2 linked regions of the Homo sapiens genome follow. The protein of the gene in region 1 purifies or fractionates together with the protein of each later gene. This does not show direct contact. Each region holds a gene or a part of one and is shown in the gene's direction. Other genes may lie near its edges.

The links.
Region 2: the proteins of TMEM252 (region 1) and STXBP4 purify together in Homo sapiens (affinity purification with mass spectrometry; one large-scale study listed by BioGRID and IntAct). This does not show direct contact.

Annotation. Positions count from the first base shown.
Region 1 is NC_000009.12:68,537,076-68,543,041, reverse strand, and holds the start of TMEM252 (transmembrane protein 252), read left to right. Parts: upstream 1-2,158; 5' UTR 2,159-2,227; coding exon 2,228-2,505; intron 2,506-5,548; coding exon 5,549-5,783; 3' UTR 5,784-5,966.
Region 2 is NC_000017.11:55,170,069-55,174,132, forward strand, and holds the end of STXBP4 (syntaxin-binding protein 4), read left to right. Parts: 3' UTR 1-3,564; downstream 3,565-4,064. UniProt on the Homo sapiens protein: Plays a role in the translocation of transport vesicles from the cytoplasm to the plasma membrane. Inhibits the translocation of SLC2A4 from intracellular vesicles to the plasma membrane by STX4A binding and preventing the interaction between STX4A and VAMP2.

The DNA of each region.
Region 1 (5,966 bases):
GGGTCTTCCACAGATTTTTGGAATTGTAACAGCAATGATAATAACAATATTGGTGATGGTGATTATAGATAACCTTCACAGGGCACTCTCTGTGCCAGGTACTATGATAAATACTTAACATTGATTGTCTCTTCTGATTTTCAAAGTTCTAAGAGAATTTTTTTAGTTATCTACTGCTATCTAAAAAATGGCCACAAAACTTAGCATATTTTTAAAATATACTTTTTTTAAACTTTTGACCTCTTTTATTTGTTAAAATAGTGACATCCATAAACATGAAATGATTTGATCATAATGCATTCATTGATTATGGCTCTTGCCATCTTGTGGCATCCAGGACCCTGGCTGAAACGTTTTATCTCACAGTTTCTGTGGGTCAGGAATCCGAGTATGACTTACCTGGGTCCTCTACTTCAGGGTCACTGAGTCAAGGTGATGCTTGGGAGCAGAGTCATCTCAAGGCTCAGTGGGATGAGGATTTGATTGCAAGCTCACGTGGTCATTGACAGGATGCAGTTCCTCATGGGCTGACGGACTAAGGGCCTCAGTTCTTCAGTGACTGTTGGCCAGAACCTGCCCTCAATTCCTTGCCTCATGGGCCTCTCCAATATGGCAGCTTCCTTCTTCAAAGGGCGTAAGCCAAGAGGACAATAGAGAGAGTCTGCTAGAAAGATGAAAACCACAATCTTGTGTAGCCTCCACGGAAGTAACTTCCGATCACCGTTACCATATTCTATTGATTAGAATGAAGTCACTAGGTCCAGCCTACACTCAGGGGAGAGGATTACTTACACAAGGACATGAATATCAGGAGGTGGGATCCTTAGGGATCATCTTAGAAATATTCCATCTCACAGTTTGGGGAAGGAGGGAATAAGAGCTGTTTTAAGATTACAAAGACAATATCAAGACTAGAAGATCAAGGTAGTTCAAGGTCGAAATTGAAGCTAAGAAAGGTAAAGGCTAAGGGTTGGAATGGAGAAGTGCCTTATATAGTTTTTGATCCATAGTGTGTACCTCTCTAATATCCGTGTCTCCCAGCCCTAACATGAAGGTAGAGCTAAGGAGATGGTGAGTGTGAGACTAAAGGTTATATGAGGGATTATTAGGGCACGCCACAAAAAACTGCTGCTCTCATTGGGAAAGTAAATGGAAAATAATGGTAATGGAGTAGTGGAGTGGAACAGCAGCAAAGAGGAACTGAAGATAAGCTATCCTGAGTAAAAGCAACCCAGGGTTCCTATGGGAAGGAGACTTTTGGCAGAGACATGCCACATTATCAAATAAAAAAGGGCAGAGCCAGGGCATAAAGCACGTCTGAAATAAGCTATCCACAATCAAAGACAGTCAAGCTAAAGAAAACAAATTCCAGCCAGGAAACAGAAGGCTGGTTCTGGAAAGATTTTTTGAGGCAATGCTACATAGAGCAGAGGTGTGGAGGAGAGGACAGGGAACATTTTTAGCAGCATCCTCTAAAACGAATTCTATTTCATATGTACTTTATGAAAGGGGGAAAGATTGCAGGAATTACAGGCCCAAAATCCCCCCAAATTCCCGAGGCTCTGTCTATTATAGTCCTTTTCTCCAGCACTCTCCTTTCCCTCCCACTCAGGCTCTTTCGATCTTGTCAACAGAGCAGGAACCACGAAGTTCACACTCTGAACTTCTGTCTTGGAATTATGCCAGTATCATAGTGTGGGGGCAATAAGTGGGGATTCATTGAGGGAGGCAAGACAAACATGTTAACAGCCTTGAAGAAATGCCTTTTTAGTACAGAAAAAGGGAGAAGGAATCAGGAAGGGATTTCTTACCAAACCTCAAAGAAGATCGTTCTTTAAAGAGTGCTAACTTCTCCAGCTTTTAGTGGGGAATTGCCCTCCATGGGGATTAAGAGACCAGCGCCTTTTAATCAAAGGAGGGCTGTACGTTCAAATAACTGGGAACAGCTGAGTGTCCCACCCAACTCTGAAGAACAAAACAGCTACACGAAGCCACTCCTGCCTGCAGTATACAATGCTATGTTTTTTGGCTAATTCTCCAAGGATATTACACTTACTTTCAATGGTTAATGAATAGCTTCTAAGTGCCTGTTTCATTTAGTTGTCCAAAGGCCAGTGGGTCCCAGAGCATATAAAGCTGCAAGCTGGCTAATGAGCTCATTCTCTTGGAGCAAGCAGGGAAGCAGAGGAGCAGCAGGGTCAGGGTGCTGGGTTCCTAAGGTGCAAGGATGCAGAACAGAACTGGCCTCATTCTCTGTGCTCTTGCCCTCCTGATGGGTTTCCTGATGGTCTGCCTGGGGGCCTTCTTCATTTCCTGGGGCTCCATATTCGACTGTCAGGGGAGCCTGATTGCGGCCTATTTGCTTCTGCCTCTGGGGTTTGTGATCCTTCTGAGTGGAATTTTCTGGAGCAACTATCGCCAGGTGACTGAAAGCAAAGGAGTGTTGAGGCACATGCTCCGACAACACCTTGCTCATGGGGCCCTGCCCGTGGCCACAGTAGACAGGTACGTGCTGACAGGCAGAGGGACCAAGAAGGGCTGAGATGGGCTGAGTTGTGTAAGATCTGAGTAATTTCTGATCCTACTATGGAGCGACTTACATGTCCCATGGGCTGTCTGTCTAGAACCAAAGCTTTATTGTCAGGGAATTACTCTGGGGTTGTTATTAGGAAGAGTGGCGCCATCTTTGGGGAAAACCATGACGCAGGGGCAACTCATCTCAGAGAAACCCTACCACCACCCCCAGTGAAAACCCACCTAAGCCAATTTAGAAACCCAGGCTCTTTTGTTATATCATGGCAGCTGTCATTAATTAGTGGCAGGTGATGGTTAGTTACTTCCCATAACCTGGCTATGAGGTTCTAAGGAAAGCAAGTCCCAGACCAAATTCTGCCACACAACAAATGAAGAAGCAGGCATAAAATGAGTCCTGGAATCTCTGTGAGCTCAGAAAAGTCCCAGTTTACTGTCCTTTTAGGTGTTGTGATCTCACCTTGCATAAAACATTCCTTCAGGGGAAGGTGATAATATTCTAGAGGCAAGATTCATTCTTTCTCGCCATCTCATACATTAGGATAGTTATCATCAAAAAACAAAACCAAACAGCTAGTGTTGGTGAGGATGTCAATAAATTGGAACGCTGTGCATTGCTGGTGGGAATGTTAAAATGGTGCAACCACTGTGGAAAACAGTGTGGAGACTCCTCTATACATTAAATATTGAATTACTGTTTGATCTGGCAATTCTACATTCTGAGTTTATACACAAAGGAACTGAAAGCAGGGATTCAAATGGATGTTTGTACACCAATGCTTGTAGCAACATTTATTCATAATAGCCCAAATGTCCATCAACAGGTGAGTAGATAAACAAAATGTGGTATATACATGCAATGGAATATTAGCCTTAAAAAGGAAGGAAATCCTGGCACATGCCACCACTTGGATGAAGTTGAAAACATTATGCTAAGTGAAACAAGTCAGTTACAAAGGGCAAATATTGTATAATTCCACTTACATGAGTACTTAGCGTAGTCAAATTCACAGACACAGAAAGTAGAACAGTGGTCCCAGGGGCTGGTGGAAGGAGAGACTGGGGACCTATTGTTTAATGAGTAGAGAGTTTTAAGGTGATGGTTGTAGAGCAATATGAGTGTATTTAGTGCCACTGAGCTATACACTTAAAAACAGTAAATTTTATGTCATATATATTTTACCACAAGAAAAAAAAGATTCAGTTAATCTTATAGTCAGTATCAGGCAACAAGAAACCTCCTAATTCTTGGCTAGCCACAGGACCATTTAGGGATAACACCCTAGGCATCATTCTCAAGATACAGGCTACAAGACTATAATTATTTTGCCCTCTTCGTGCAAGAGTAGAAAGTATCTAAAATATTTTAGCTACTCCATGTATCTTGAATATAAGTAATCTTACCCATGAGCATCCACTTTTGGCATCCTTTATGCTAATTAATAAGATAATAATTATGAAAACCAAAACTTATTTCCAATGTTATACTAACCAGCAGAGTTTCTGGGTTTGATTAAAAATTAAGAGAAATGAAGTGATTGTAGAAGATGCCTCTAGAGTGATGATTTCTTTTTGTATAAATGTTAGAGGACTACCTCTAGAGTGTGAATTTCTGATAAATGTAACTGATTGCCTTTAGGATATAGCTTAAATTGACTAACACTGCATAATATTACAGTATACTGAAATGTTTGAAAGTAAATTATGGACATCGTAACACCCCCATTTTACTGCCTCTTCTCGCTGCATGTAATAAGATGCTTATCCCACGCAGAATGGCTGGCAAGTCAGCCTGGGAAGTCACATTTCTCCAAAGCATTTGCACTCAAAATGGATACCCAGGTTGAGATATCAAAGCAAATGGGTCTCCGATGATGGAATTCAGGGGACTGGGAATATGGATGGCAGTTGAAGGAGGGTGGGGTTGGGAGAGGTAGCTGGGATTTGGGGCAGGCAGCAGTCATCCTGGAACCTTTCACATCACTCCAGGGAACATCTCACCTTTCTGTGTAAAATGCCTTTACACATGTGCCCCGTGACTCAGCCTTGGCTATTCTGAGCGAAGGCTGAGATTTATGCCTTATAGTAGACAGCTTCTTCAGCTACTGGCTTTGGGCCTGGTAACATTTGGAATGGAGTTGTGGCTACAAATGGCAGTCCCTGTTCTGTTGTGGTTACACACCATAAACACTCCCTGTAGGCACTGGAAGGATCACTCTATAAATACACAACTCAGCCAAGCTCACCGGTCTCTCTTCCTCCCCTCTCCCCTTCCCCCAAATTCATTCATGATGGAGAAGCCAGGAGGATTTAGCAATTAGAAATGCCAGGCAAGATGACCAATGAGTACATCAGCCCCCGAATGAATGGCTGCTTTAGCCTACTGGCATAGAAAGGGCTACAACTGAAATCTGTGTAAAGTTGTCAGTTGATATCATTTGAGAAATGAATATGTTTGTATATTTTCTTTGAAACTAGCTACTGAGTCTCGAAAGGGTGTTAGGATAGAGACATGGCATCTGGTATAGTTCAGGGATCAGCACAGAGTTGGTTTTCATTCATTATTTTGTTGGCTGTGATGATCAGAGAAAGTGAGTGCAATTGAGGGGATGATGCCATGCGAGAAAGGGAGCAAGGATGTGGATGGACTAAGTACTCGGTAGAGAGAAGTTCCCTATCCAAAGCCCCCACCTCCTCTAATGTTGACAAGGATCTCACACTGAATGGCCCTGTTTTCATGAGTGAATGAGCAATAGAGAAGGAATAGCTTGGCATAACCCACTGGGAAAAAAATGTGACTAGAGGCAGGCATCCTGTGGCTGATAAAAAGGTTCTTTTGGAAGAGCAGCACATTTTTAAAAAACTGGTGATGCCAGGAAGAAGTACATCTGTTTCAAAAATCCATGTTTCTTAACAGTTTAGCTTCGCACAATTTGAGCTGAGAGAGGCAGCCGTCTGCCTCTTTGGCATTAATGCCTAAATAACGCACGCATGTTTATGCTGTTTTGTCCCCTAGGCCAGACTTTTACCCTCCAGCTTATGAAGAGAGCCTTGAGGTGGAAAAGCAGAGCTGTCCTGCAGAGAGAGAGGCCTCTGGCATTCCTCCACCTCTATATACAGAGACGGGCCTGGAATTCCAGGATGGAAATGACTCCCACCCAGAGGCCCCACCATCTTATAGAGAGTCCATAGCCGGCCTGGTGGTGACAGCAATCTCAGAGGACGCCCAGAGGCGAGGCCAAGAGTGCTGAGGCAGAGAAAGCTCTCCAGCACTCATGATGCCACCACTGTGGGGAGCAGCTACTGATAATAAAGGCAAACGAGGGACTGTGGGAGGAAAAGCCACACCAGGGACCCCACAAGAGAGCTTGGGGAGGGGATGACAGCCCTGAATTCCAGACATAACTGGCCATGCCAGGGCAGGGCAGGCCAGG
Region 2 (4,064 bases), on another chromosome or scaffold:
TTCTTAGGACATCTATAAATCACCACAAACATTCTGGAAAGCAGTCTTGGAACATCTATCAAAGGCCTTAAAAATTTCTTCTTCTGTGAATTTATCCTCACAAATGACCCCAAGTTTAGACCAAAATAAAAAAATGCTTAAAAGGCTTATTAAAGCATGATTTAAAATAGAAATGATTGCCTAAATTCCTGAAAACAGGGGAATGTCTAAATAAAATATGGTATCTAACATGATAGAAAATGTTTACTAATGTTTAATGATACCAAGAAAGTATCACAATAATAACATCAAGTGGTAATAACAGGAAACAGATCTGTATACAATATAAAACCAACAGTATTGTATATATAAACACCATAGAAGATCTGAAAAAAAATTAGATGACATTATTTGTGATATCTATTTTATTTATTATATTTTTCTGCATACTACTCTACAGTGAGCCTGTCCTTTATAAGAAAAAATGCTAATGATTTATTGTGTATGAAAAAAGTGTATCTGATTTGATTATATATTTTTATTTCCACTTATATTTTCTAGGATTATTTTGCTTTAGAATTCTATGTATAATCCTGTGAAAATTTGTAGTGTTGTAGGGACTGGAAAGATCAGAGATTATGTTATGGCCATGAATGAGGCCTGACCTGCATTGTCAATAACTAAATTGATTATTGTGGAAACAACAAAAAAATTCATTTTTTGAAATGAAAATCTTTATTGAAATAACTATTTTACCATTGTGTGGTCAGATTCACTGCATTTGATGCTTTTTCAGGATTTGTTTTTCCTGCTAGAAATGCTAGAGTTGTCACAGATGTGATATTTATGTTTTCATTGTCTGGGGAGGGCCAAGTTTCATGACAGAGAAAGACTGGGGCCAATTCTGTGATTATGGATGTCAACTTATCTCAGAGCAGTATCATTGGTTGAGCAGTCCTGCAGGACATCTAAGTTTACCGTCTTTATCTTGCCATTGTCAAAGATCCTGGACCTATTTTTTTCTGCCTTGAAAACTTTTGTGCAGTAAAACCAGCAATGGATTTTAGCAGAGTTGATGCATCATTAGGATTTTCACATTAACTCTTTGGACTTAGAGCCATGTCTAAAGTGTCCTTCTTTTGGATATAGTGCCTGGTGCAGAACTCTACCACAAAACATCAGGTGTGCCTCTGAATAGTCTTTGCAAGAAGCACAAAATCCTAGAATTGAGGTGAATTTGTAAGTTCCTCTAGTCCAACCACCTTTCAAATGAAAGAATCCTTCCAAAGCACCCCTGGCCAATAGCTCATCAAGATTTTGCTTAGATATTCTTATTGAGGGGGAACTTACTAACTCCTTTAATTCTTATTTTGCTTAAGGCTGAGTTTTTAAAACATCTAACATCAGCCAAGATTATTGATTTATCTATAAGGAATAATCTGTGAATTAACCTTCTGTAGCTTTTCCTTGCTGACCAGGGAATACCTCCCCATTGAAGCCTAGGCCAGATTCCAGTCCGTTTTGACCATACCCCATCATGGTATTTTAGAGTACACCTGAATAAGATACATGGTGCCATGTACATGGAAACTGACTGCTCTCATGTTACGGGTTGAACTGTGTCCCCCCAAAATTTGTATGTTGAAGTCCTAAAATTGGCACTGTTGCCATAAGCCAGGGAACTACCTAGGAGATGCTAGGAGAGAGGCCTAGAATGGAACCCTCCCTCCCCCGCCCCTGGGGCCTTCAGAGGGAGCGGTGCCCAGCTGACACCTTGACCTTGGACTTCTAGCCTCCAAACTGTGAGACAATACATTTCTGTTGCTTAAGCCACTCAGTTAGTGTGCTTTATTTTGGCAGTCTTAGCAAACTAATACATCCCCCAATCCAGAACTGTCCTCCTTTGGATAATAAAAACAGCAATAATTATAGTGTCATTACCCTGAGTGACTGGTCCCACTGTTGGTCATTCTTTGTAGATGTGAGTTATTGCCCTATTGAGATCAGAAGTCCTCTCACTTAGAGGCATATCTAAGACTTTTTTCTTGTGGAGGGAGCTCACTCAACTGTAGGTAAGGTTTGACTCATCTGGGTTAGTAGTAAGAACAAACTTCCAAGTGGCACCATCTTAAAGGTGCAAGCCCATGTGGGCGATGACCAGGTCTGGTATATTAAGAGGCTCTTGGTAGCACATTAGAAACACCTGGAGAGATTTTAAAATTTACAAAGCCTAGCCAAACCCCAGACCCATTAACCCTGACTCTCTGAGAATAGGACCCTGGCACCTGTGTTTTAAGGATTCTAGGTGATTTCAATGTGTAGCCAAGGTTCACTGCCATAGCCTGTCCTGGAATGCAGGTAACTAAAACTTCAGCAGATTATGAAAAACAAAAGTTACTTTCTTGGATGCATATATTCTTATAGCCTCAAAACTGAAACTGCAAACTGAACAATGCTGCAGTCAGATACACACACATATTTCAACTGCATAACTTCCTTTAATAATACTTTTATTTTTCCAAATTTGAAGACTGTCCCTAAGTCATTTCTTCTAAAAGTTAGTAATAATCCCACCAACTCACATTTACATAGAAGTTACAGTTTAAAGTTTGCATCTCGTAATAACTTGGTGAGATAGGGCAAGCATTATTTCTAATTTGCATATGAGAAAAAACTAAGGCTCGGATGAGTTATGTGACTTCCCTGAGTCATGTTAGAGTAACTAACTCCTGATTTGTAAACTGAAGGTCCCAAATCCTGGGAACTCCCTCAGCTCTGGGCAAGCCAGGACAGGTAGGTCACCCTGCACCTACACAAGGACTGAGCTGAGTTCTAGTTACCTGCTGTGAAGGACTGTAGAGGTTATCTAAGCCAGCTCCTCCTTTTACTGGAAAAGGAAAAGACTGAGATAAGTTTCCAAAACCCCTGCTGGAGCACCTTCTACTTCTAGAAAGATGTTGAGGGGCTTCCAGGGCACAAAGGAAAGAGAAGTAACTGTGTCTCCTTCCCCAACCATGTATGTGATACATTCATTCTCTAGGATTGGAAATTCCCAGAAAGCTGTGTCAGCAATGAGATTTGTTTCATTGTTTTGCCTTGTTTTGTCATTGAGTTGTTATAGTTAAAGTTTATTATTTTTTAATGCAGAAAAAAGTGACTTTTGGGGGAGTGCAGAGTTCTATGAATTTTTAACACATGTCTAGTTATTTGACCACAACCGTAATCAAGATACAGAACAGTTTTATCATTTCAAGTGCTCTCCTGCTATGCTTTTATAACACACCCTTCCCCACCCCAACTCCTGGCAATTACTGCTCTATTCTCCGTAACTGTAGTTTTGCCTTTTCGAGAATATCATATAAATAATCATGTATTATGTAACATTCTGAGACAGGCTTCTTTCACCCAGCATAATGCCTTTGAGATTCATCCAGATCGTTGTGTGTATCAGTAGTTTGTTTTTATTACTGGGTTATAGTTCATTGTATGGATATACCACAGTTTCTTTAGCCATTCACCCACTGAAAGTCATTTGGGTTGTTTCTAGGCTTTGGTGATTATGAATAAAGCTGCTATCAACATCCACGTATTGGTTTTTGTGTGAACATAAGTATTCATTTCTCTAGATGAAATACCCACAAGTAGGATTTCTTGATTTTGTGATATATATGTTTTCTATTGTTGCCCTTTAAAATTACATGAATTTAGTGACTTAAGCATTACAAATTTATTATCTTACAGTTTTGTAGGTCAGAAAGGTCTTAATGGGCTAAATTCAAATTATCAGCAGGGTTGTATTTCTTTCTGGTGGCCGTCAGAGAGAATCCATTTAGGTTCAGTTCCTTGAGGTCATAGAACTTGCCTTTTGACCCCCTTTATCCACCTGCAAAGCCAGCAATGGCCAGTCAAGTCCAGTCCCTTCATGTACATCTCTTTCTAACCCTTCTCTCATCCTCTCTGAACTTTCTTCCATTGTCATATCTCTCTCTCTGACCCAACCATGAAAGGTTATCTGCTTCTAAGAATTCTTGCTTAGATTGGGTTCACCATGATAAAATTCAGGATAATTTCACCATTTCAAAGTT